Linked DNA regions of Homo sapiens: region 2 is linked to region 1. Evidence: fine-mapped expression QTL. A gene starts in region 1. The other region holds a variant in brackets. All regions are shown on one strand. Distances are between the middles of the regions.

Evidence for each region. PIP is the estimated chance that this variant, and not a neighbour inherited with it, causes the effect.
Region 2: its variant is fine-mapped to the expression of IPO5 in whole blood (INTERVAL, PIP above 0.99).

What each region holds. Positions count from the first base shown.
Region 1 is chr13:97,950,770-97,955,769 of GRCh38, forward strand. It overlaps IPO5 (importin 5), which reads left to right and starts at 2,906. Exons shown (of 29, transcript NM_002271.6): 1 at 2,906-2,947; 2 at 3,350-3,429.
Region 2 is chr13:97,973,854-97,979,377 of GRCh38, forward strand. IPO5 (importin 5) reads left to right here. Exons shown (of 29, transcript NM_002271.6): 4 at 2,840-2,933. The coding sequence starts at 2,844. Among named protein-coding and RNA genes, the nearest start is that of IPO5, 23 kb to the left of the region's middle. RefSeq lists silencers at 2,085-2,814, 2,995-3,344. The variant G/C (reference allele first, on the strand shown) is at 2,541.

The DNA.
Region 1 (5,000 bases):
GGTAGGAGATATTTGAACCATGGGGGCAGTTTCCCTCATACTGTTCTTGTGGTAGTGAATAAGCCTCACGAGATCTGACGATTTTATAAGAGGTTTCTCCTTTCACTTGGTTCTCATTCTCTCTTGCCTGCCACCATGTAAGATGTATCTTTTGCTTTCCACCATGACTATGAGGCCTCCCCAGCCACATGGAACTGTGAGTCCATTAAACCTCTTTTTCTTTATAAATTACCCAGTCTCAGGTATGTCTTTTTTTTTTTCTTTTTTTTTTTTGAGACCAAGTCTTGCTCTGTCACCCAGGCTGGAGTACAGTGGCACAATCTCGGCTCACTGCAACCTCCACCTCCTGGGTTCAGTGATTCTCCTGCCTCAGCCTCCCAAGTAGCTGGGACTACAGGCACCCACGACCATGCCCAGCTAATTTTTCTATTTTTAGTAGAGACAGGGTTTTGCCATGTTGGCCAGGGTGGTCTCGAACTCCTGACCTCAGCCTCCCAAAGTGCTAGGATTAGAGGCATGAGCCACTGTGCCCAGCCACGGTCTTTATCAGCAGCATGAAAACAGACTAATACACCAAGCAACTGGTCAATGTCATAGGCACTGGAGAAACTTCTCGGATTTGTTCTTTTAAAATGTTCTTCAGGAAGGGCACAATGGCTCACCCCTGTAATCCCAGCACTTTGGGAGGCCAAGGTGCTCCCAGCTCACTTGAGGCCAGGAGTTCAAGATCAGCCTAGGCAACACAGTGAGACCCTCCCCCAACGTCTACAAACATTTTTTTAGAACATTAACCAAGTATGGTGGGGCATGCAGTGAGCCATGATTGCATCACTGGACTCCAGGGTGGGTAACAGTGCAAGACTGTCTCTAAAAAAAGAACTAAAAAATAAACAAATACGTAACTAAATAAAATGTTCTTCATACATTTTGCAGTAACCTTGTAACCATTCAATCGCTGATTCTGAATCTATGTAAATTCTGGTATCAGACCCTTGGTAAGATGCTTGAGCAAAATGCCATGAAGACACCTGCCCACAAGCCAAAATGTTAGAAGTCAGGTGCAGTAGCGAGCTCCTGCAGTCCCAACCACTTGGGAGGCTGAGGCAGGAGGATCTCTTGAGCCCATAGTTCGAGACCAGCCTGGGTAACATAATGAGACCCCTGTCTCAAAAACAAAAAAAGAACCAGTGACATAGGATGAGGACGAAGAAGCAAGGAATAGTGCTGAAGAACTTTCAGGATATGCGGGGTGACACTAGAAAGTGCTTAGACATCACACGTTACCAAGAAAAAAATGTGACCTATACAAAGGAGTCTGCCCATGTCCTATGAAACAATTTAAAAATCAAAAATAGGCCGGGTGCGTTGGCTCATGCCTGTAATCCCAGCACTTTGGGAGGCCAAGGTGGGCAGATTACGAAGTCAGGAGATCGAGACCATCCTGGCTAACATGGTGAAACCCCGTCTCTACTAAAAATATAAAAATTAGCCGAGCATGGTGGCGCGTGCCTGTAATCCCAGCTACTTGGGAGGCTGAGGCAGAAGAATCGCTTGAACCAGAGAGGCAGAGGTTGCAGTGAGCTGAGATCACACCAGCCTGGGCAACAGAGAGAGACTCTGTATCAAAAAAAAAAGAAATAAATAATTACAAAAATGGAGTTTGGCTTTAATTAATGATCTGAATTAATAAAAACAACAAAATGCTAGGCCAGCGCAGGGGATCATGCCTGTAATCCCAGCACTTTGAGAGGCCGAGGCAGATGGATCACTTGAGGTCAGGAGTTCAAGACCAGCCTGGCCAACGTGGTGAAACCCCATCTGTACTAAAATACAAAAATTATTCGGGCATGGTGGTGGGCACCTGTAATCCCAGCTACTTGGGAGGCTGAGGCAGGAGAATTTCTTGAACCCGGGAGGTGGAGGTTGCAGTGAGCCGAGATCACGCCACTGCACTCCAGCCTGGGCAACAGAGTGAGAATCTGTCTCAAAAAAAAAAGAAAAGCTAAATGTACAAAGCTAGGGCATTGAGATCCATGAGAATACAGGGCAAAATTGATGTTAATCTGTCATATAAAAATTTAATTACATCCCATAAATATCTGCAATTTTTTATTGTTTATTTTTTGAGACAAGGTCTCACTCTGTTGCCCAGGCTGGAGTGCAGTGGTGCAATCACAGCTCACTGCAGCTTCAACCTCCCCCGGCTCAGATGATCCTCCCACTTCAGCTTCCTGAGCAGCTGGGACTACAGGTGTGCACTGCCACACGCATCTAATATTTGCATTTTTCATAGAGATGGGGTTTTGCCATGTTGCCAAGACTGGTCTTGAACTCCTGAGCTCAAATGATCCTCCCACCTCGGCCTCCCAAAGTGCTGGAATTACAGGCATGAGCCACCCCGCCCAGCCAATATTTATAATTATTACATGTCAACTAAAATAAAAGAAAAAGTAATTTAATCACAAACCCAGTTGACATAAACGTATGTAATATGGAATTTCCTGTTGTTTCCATACAAATTTATCTTTGTCTATTTGAGAGATCAATTTCTCTTTTCAGTATTGAGTAGTGAATAGAATCAAAATCTGTGGGTAAAGAAGCTACTCAGACAGTTTCAAAACTGAATTTGATGACACATTTGTACCCAATCTGAGTGGCCCCCAGCAACATGGGTTTTGAGTTCTCAAAGGCCAATAGATAGCTCCCTTTCCTTTCCACAGCTTTGGGAGCTTGGGCTACCCTGTAACGTCTAAATGCCTGTGCAGTGTGGGCCTGTGAAGCTGGCAGGGTGGGCAGTGTAAATGCCCACTAGCAGGAGCCAGCTGACCTCCTGCGTGTCACAATAGCAGCCAGGTGTCTCCACGGTGACGTCTCTGAGCCAGGAGGTCAGAACTGTGGGATTGATGACCTCCCACAACTGGAGCAGCCGGGAACAGCTCTGACCACAGTAAGTCATCCCAAAACCTCACATTCAGATGAAACCATTTAAGAATTTCATCTGCACTGAGGAACAATTTAGCGTGATACTGGAGGGAAAGAGTTTCCCTGTGAGATCCAGGAGGTCCCTTTAGCTCGTCTCCTGACGTCACCACAGTCATACCCAAGAGGAAGGAAACGTCAGAGACAATGATTTGGAGAACATTCTACACAAAAACCAAGTATGAAACAATGACGATTTCATGATGGCTCATTGTTCTTTGGTATTGTGCCTTACGTGAGCTGGGGACTAACTCTGTATCCTTAAGGAGGCATCACTTGATTAGAGTTGCCCAAAAGAATGTGGGTTATTATCCTAAAGGTCTGTGTTGCCATCCTGAAACAGTCAGAAATCAGTTTTTATTTCACTTAGGTGGTTCCGGGGAGAAGCCTTTCCAGGACCCATGTGTAGGCACAACTGTTTTCCCTGATCAGGATACTTGCGGCACTCAAGTGAGTCTAGAATTATCAGATTTTGTTCTGTCTCTCTTCACTGTGAATTCTATTCTTTATTTCCTTTAAAACAAAAAGCTCCTGCTATTTTCTCCTATAATTATGATATCTGTTTCTTGATCATTTTACCTTCTATTCACCAATTAATTGAAATCCAACCCATCAGGATTATCTACCCTGCTTTCCTATAGGGAGAATAAAAAGTGCTTAGAAGCAGTATGATTTTCACTGCCTTTAATTTCTCAAATCCCAAGATGTTCCATTTAAAATCTTTAGAGTATCTATTTTGTCTTCTGTACATTATGGTTGTATTCCCTCAGAGGCCGAGTATATTTTATCTTAGTTTTCAGAGATCACTAAAGTCAAGTAAATGAAGGAAAACAGAATTCATTTTCATTATGGGAAAACAAAATCAATCCCTAAGTAGTCAAAAGATTACTTACTTAAGGAACCACCTGGTTAACTTCTTCTCCTAGAACTTAATCCCCTAACTAGGGGTAAAAAAGGCTCATTGTCATCTTATAAAGTATTAGATACCAGGGACTTGTCAAATGCTAATGCCTTTATTATAGAATGTTTAATTTAGACCTTCCTAAACAGTTTTGCTTTCTTCCGTCATTTGTCTGTGATGGAACCTCAAAGACACTAACTAGTATGCGAGACAGATTTGTGTTGGAACATTGTGTTAGCTTTCCAGTAGAGTTAAAACTCTGGAATGCAATTATAAACCTCCAAATGAAAAATACCGGCCGGGCACAGTGGCTCACACCTATAATCCCAGCACTTTGGGAGGCTGAGGTGGGAGGATCACTTGGGCCTAGGAGTTTAAGGTCAGCCTAGGCAACATAGTGAGACCCTGTCTCTACAAAATATAGAAAAAAGTAGCCAGTTATGGCAGAATGCATCTGTAATTCCAGGGACTCAGGAGGCTGAGGTGAGAGGATTCCTTGAGCTGGGGAGGTCAAGACTGCAGTGAGCCATGACTGTGCCACTGCACTCCAGCCTGGGTGACAGAGTGGGACCCTATCACGAAAAAAAAAAAAGAAAAATACCTAAGTGGCCAAATACCTTATAAAGTTCATGCATGCTACTCTACAGGAAATATCCTCAGCTGTCTTCTCTGTGCTGAGTTCATATACTCTTGTGCCTAGTTCATACATGCTTGGTCATCTGCCTTCCAAAGCACACAGCAAACCAGATGATGAGAGCAGCTGACAAGTGGAGACAGTTGTCATTTTATGTTGGCAGCTACAATAAATGACACTGTCTGATGGAGAAAATGAGCGGGGAAAACACTTCCAAAACACAGGCAGAAATATAAGAGTTGAAATCCCAGAGTTCCAGAACAATTTCACCTCAGGGCAAGCAAGCCTAAGTGGCCTGTGTATCCACCACTCTACCACAACCCAGTGACATAACCGACTTGATGGTCCTCAGACGCCGGAGCTGGGAGGATCCCCTAGGGTGCTGCCCAACTCGCCCCAATTTACAGATGAGGAAATGGAGGCCTCAGGAAGCATTGACAGCCCAGTTCAGGATCACAGCTAGTTAAGGGGGAAGCTGCAACTACA
Region 2 (5,524 bases), 23 kb after region 1:
GAACTCAGGAGTTTGAGACCAGCCTGGGTAACAGGAAGACCCCATCTCTACCAAAACTGGAAACATTAGCCAGGTGTGGTGGCTTGTGCCTGCAGACCAGCTAGTTGGAAGGGCTGAGGTGGGAGGATCGCTGGAGCCCAAGAAGTGGCGGCTGCAGTGAGATCACACCACTGCTCTCCACCCTGGGCAACAGAGTGAGACTCTGTCTCAAAATAATAATAATAACAATAATAATAATAGTAACAAATATCTGCAAACTTGATTGGAATTTCTATTATTTAGTAACTATTAAGCAAATATATGTAACCTACAGACTCATTGCCAATAGAAACACATATCGCAACAGGTGTTAAAAAGTAACTGGAGATCGGGCCATGCCCTAAGCAGCCTCTAAGCAATTTATCATATTTCACTGTTAACCTAGTCATTTGAATGAGTTGTTTTTGTCTGAAATTCTTTTTTTTTTTTTTTGAGACGGAGTCTTGCTCTATCACCCAGGCTGGAGTGCAATGGCACGATCTCGGCTCACTGTAACCTCCACCTCCCAGGTTCAAGTGATTCTCCTGCCTCAGCCTCCCGAGTAGCTGGGATTACAGGCGCCCACCACCACCACACCTGGCTAATTTTTGTATTTTTAGTAAAGACGGGCTTTCACCATGTTGGCCAGGCTCGTCTCGAACTCCTGACCTCAGGTGATCCGCCCACCTCGGCCCCCCAAAGTGCTGGGATTACAGGCGTGAGCCACCTTGCCCGGCCTGTAATTCTTAAAACCTTAATAACCTTGGCTGATGATGAAACCTCCTCAGAATCCAGATACCCCAACGACCCACAAAAAAAAAAAAAAATCAAAATCAAACAAAAAAAAGCTGCCCCAAAGTAATGTGCATAGTGGTTTGTCTAGAAGAAATAACGTGGCATAAGAATGAAAACTTGTCACATCTAAGAAATATAAATTCAACAAAGATAGGTCTGCAGACCTCCTGTAGAGAACCCATCATTGTCATGGCCCAAAACTTTCTAAGAGAATTTTCTCTAGGAACCAATTAGAATCCTTTAGAAAAAAATCTTGGCTGGCCATCCCAATTGCACGTGGATCCCAGGGCTCAGCCCAGATTCTAAACACAGTGGCCAAGATTTAAAATCATTCACCAAAGAGCAAATGTTTTGACTTTCAAAGAGCAGAACTGCAGCAGAATAGCCAACAGGAAATTAAATTCCCTAAGTTAAATACTATGTACTGCCAGCGGTGTAGAACTACTCTTCCATCTCACCCAGTATGAAACCTCCTCACTAGAGATGTAGTGTCCCTTTGGGGCAGAAATGAATTGTTTTTGTAGCTGGGCGCAGTGGCTCATGCCTGTAATCCTAGCACTTTGGGAGGCCGAGGCGGGGGGAGGGCGGGGGGGGCTGGTATCGCCTGAGGTCAGGAGTTCGAGACCAACTGGGCCAACTTGGTGAAACCCCGTTTCTACTAAAAATACAAAAAAGTTAGCTGGGCATGGTGGAACATGCCTGTAATCCCAGGTATTTGGGAGGCTGAGGCATGAGAATTGTTTGAACCCGGGAGGCAGAGGTTGCACTAAACCGAGATCGCGCCACTGCACTCCAGCCTAGGCGACAGAGCAAGGCTTCCACTGACACCCTTAGCCCAATGTATTGGATACAACAGGGTCTCAACAAAAGTACCCTCTGATTTGTACACTGCTCTCTGCCTTTGGCAGCCCCAGGAGTTAAAGAACATCGCGTGTATTATCTGCGCATTAGAATGCTGAAATTGAAATTACGCCTCTAGGTTCCTAGACTGAGATTGAGATAATCAGCCCTGTAAACCAGGGCTCCTTTAGGAAGAAAGGTGTCTCTCTTGACGTTCCCCAATCATTGCGAGAACAGAATCCCTAAACAAGGGATTCAAGGGAACAGTCACAGATCCTGGGGTGGGGGCATGTTTGCTACGTGTACATCCGAAGACGACCGCGGGCTGGGGACGGGCGGCCTGGCGGGACAGCCCCGGGCTGAGTAACCCCTCTTCCGGGCAAGCCCCAGGCGTGAGTCACTGGAGAGCGCGACGGGAGGAAGGGGCGCCCTGAGTCCACAGCCCTGGGGGAGGTCGGAGGGTCTGAAAGCGAGAAGTCCGTGAGTAGAAGGTACGTAGGAAGTGGGTCTAAAGGGACTGCCTTCCTGGGGGTGGGTGAAGGGCTGGATCCCAGGGAGCGAGGGACCAAAGGGGTGGGGCCTGCTCCAGCGGCCACGGGGAGGGGCCGGGGGTCGCTAGAAGGAGGCCGACCAGCCCGCGGCGCCGAAATCTCCCGCGCTCAGCAGCTGGCCCCTCCTCCCCGGCCAGGCCTCAGGCCCCTTGCCGCGGCCGGGCCCGCCGGCCGGCTCCTCCCGCTGTCCCCGCGACGCAGCCCTGGCCCCAGCCCAGGCCTCGACCTCGACCTCAACCCCGACCCCGACCCCGATCCCAGCCCTGGCCCGGCTGCGAAGCCGCCAGCCTACCCAACCGGCGTACAGCCGGCGGCCCCCGATGCGCGGCCACTGAC[G/C]GCACCGCAGGGTGCGTGGCCAATCAGCGCGGCCCCCGAGGAGGCGTCCTCGGCCCCGCCCCCCTGCGCCCAAGGCCAGTGAGGCGCCGGCGCCGGCGGCCGCGGCGGGGTGAGAGGCCGCGAGGCCCCGCCCCGTCCTCCCCTTTCCCCTTTGCCCCGCCCTTCCCGCGCGGCCCCCCGCAAGCCCCGCGCCGCCGCTGGTGCCGGTCCCCGCGCTGGGCCCGCCCCCGCCCCTCCCGCGGCCCGCGAGCGCGCCTCACGGCTCCTGTCTCCCCTCCCTCCTTCTCTCTCACGCCTAGCGCAATGGCGGCGGCCGCGGCGGAGCAGCAACAGTTCTACCTGCTCCTGGGAAACCTGCTCAGCCCCGACAATGTGGTCCGGAAACAGGCAGAGGTAACCGAGTTCGCCGCCCCAGTCTTCGCGCCCTGGCCGGCGCGCCGACCCTTTACCGACGCCAGCCGCACCGGGCCTCGGCCGGTCCGCGGCGGCCGCGCAGGCTGGGCCCGGCGGGCGGCGGCCGCGCAGCCCACGTGTGAGGCGGCCCGCGGCTCCCGGTCGTGCCCCCGGGCTTTTCCGGCCATTGCTGCCGCGGCGCCTGGCACCAGTTACCTCCCCGCCGCCGCTCGCACCCACGTGCGGCCGCTCCCGACGCGCCCCCGTCCAGGTGTGGGGTGCCGGGCGGGCCCGGGGCCCCAACTTCGCTGGCCACCCCGCTTCCCAGCTCCCCGCTTGCCCCTTTCCCGCTTTCTCCCAGTGGGAGCCCCCACTGCCCTTCCAGCCGCTGTCTCCACCCAGCCTAGCGCTGTGGGTCTCCCAAACCCTGGCTGCTACCTGACCCGTCACGCCTGCTTCTACCCCTGCTCATCTCCCACACCGTCTGTCCCTCTCTTTTTAAATATGTGCCCTGCCTTGTCCCTACTGCCTTTTTCCATTTAGTTCTTTCTCATTCTAGTTCCTAACATCAGAAGCCAGATTTCCCTACCCCCTCCCACCTCCAGTTTTGTGAAGTTGCCTTTAGGGTTTCTTTCTATGCAGTTTCCACCTTACTCTGGGCTTATAATACACTTACTCTGCTCTTCAGACAAATTTTCTTTGCTCTCTAGAGAATCGTGGGATAAATGGGATGTAGTGGGACTTCCGTTGTTTAACTGGGCCAGTACCATATGTTTAAGTCTTCAACTTCATTAAATCTAACCGTAATCTCTTTTTTTCAAACCACCTCTTGTTCCTGGCCTCCAAAATGTGGAGAGACTTTCAAGTGACAGTATTTTAAATATATCTGTAAGCTCATTTACCAAGTTCACTAGAAGACTGATGTTACATTTTCAGCGTTGAGACCACGATTCTTGTGGGATACTTCCAGGGGAGGGAGAAACTTTCCAGTTTCTTAGCTGACCGCCAAACTTGGTTATATATGGGGTTTTTGCAACCATGCGATTGTAGAGTTTCATAAGATTAAGTGAAGGATGTTCAGCCAGATATTTTTAAATAACAAAAATTAATTTTACATATAGCCAATGAAATTGACTGCAAGTCCTCTTCTGAACTCAGGCCTGAAGACTTTTCCAGGTGTCTTTGAAACGACGGTGGTAATCGTTGTTTTGAATAGATGGTGGATATGCTGGTTACACTTAGGGGTTTTATATTAAGTGAAGTAAACACACCCAAAATTCGGTTCTATGTGAAAAAGCATTTTCTACTATTCACTTCATTAAGTTTTTATTTATTATACATGTAATACATGTTCAGGGTAAAAATTCAAACAGTGAATCGTTTCTTATCCCGTTTCCCAAAGGTGACCGCTTGTGTCGTGAATCTTCGCTGAAAATTTAACATACACATTCATTTTTTACTTAATGGGCTTATAATACTATTTACACTATTTTGCAACTTGAATTTTTCACTCTATATTTCACATTGCCTCATAAGTGAGGTTTTGGTCAGCTATAGATTATACATCATATGGATAGATATTTATATAAGCAACCCTCTATGAAATGGATATTGCGGTTTCCAGTGACCTGCTCTTTTAAAAATAGTACTATGCGCAGGAGTACATGTATACCTATCTTTGCATACTTTGCCAGGTTTGCTTGTAGAATACTGAAAAGTAGCATTTGTTCCTAGAAGTGATATGCATGTATTGCACCAGTTTGCCTTGGGGATATGATGATGCTTTAAAAAAAAAAATTAATGCTTTCTGGTAACTCTTGAGATAATTTTTCGCCAAAATAACTTTTTAATCCCAGCATGAAAATAATAGAAATTTTCATGTGTTACAAAGCAGAACAGCATTGTAATTAGTAAGCTAGTTTAATTCTCTCTGTTCCCTCCAGTTGCTTAAGTCTCTATTGTCAAGCCTAGTGGGGAATCTCTCTTCTATTGAACTAAATACCAGTGTCTGGTTTAGCTTGAATTCCAATTGGTGCCTGTTGTAAATCTTTTATCACTTACATCACTTTGGGGATAGTTATCAGCATTCAGCACATTTTCTCATAAAGAACAATTGGAAATAAGTACTGTTATTCTCTTAGTCTCTTTATTCCTAGTGAAAACATTCAGATACTAGGTTTTTACTTTCTTTGTATATCCTGAGAATGTATTAATATGTAAACTAAGTACTGTGATACAGAATTTTCTAATTTGACCTCCAAAAAAGTAAATGTTAAGAGAAGCTCTCTGGTGCCATAGAATGCCCCTTTCTTTTTTGCCTAATGAAATAAGCGTTTTATAAGAGATCAAATGAAATAAAATTAGCATTAAGTCTGATACAGCAAATATAGAAATATTTTCTATGAACTGAAAAATTGGCCAGGGCTCAGTAAATATCTTTGTAATTTACTCATTCAAAATAAAAATACTTAGTCGACACATAAATACCAAACTGTTGACTAAGGTGACTTTTGTATTCAAATATGGTTATATATTTGGTTGAAATCATTGAAGAGACGTCAAAACTCTAAAAAGTTAAAACTTTTTTCGTC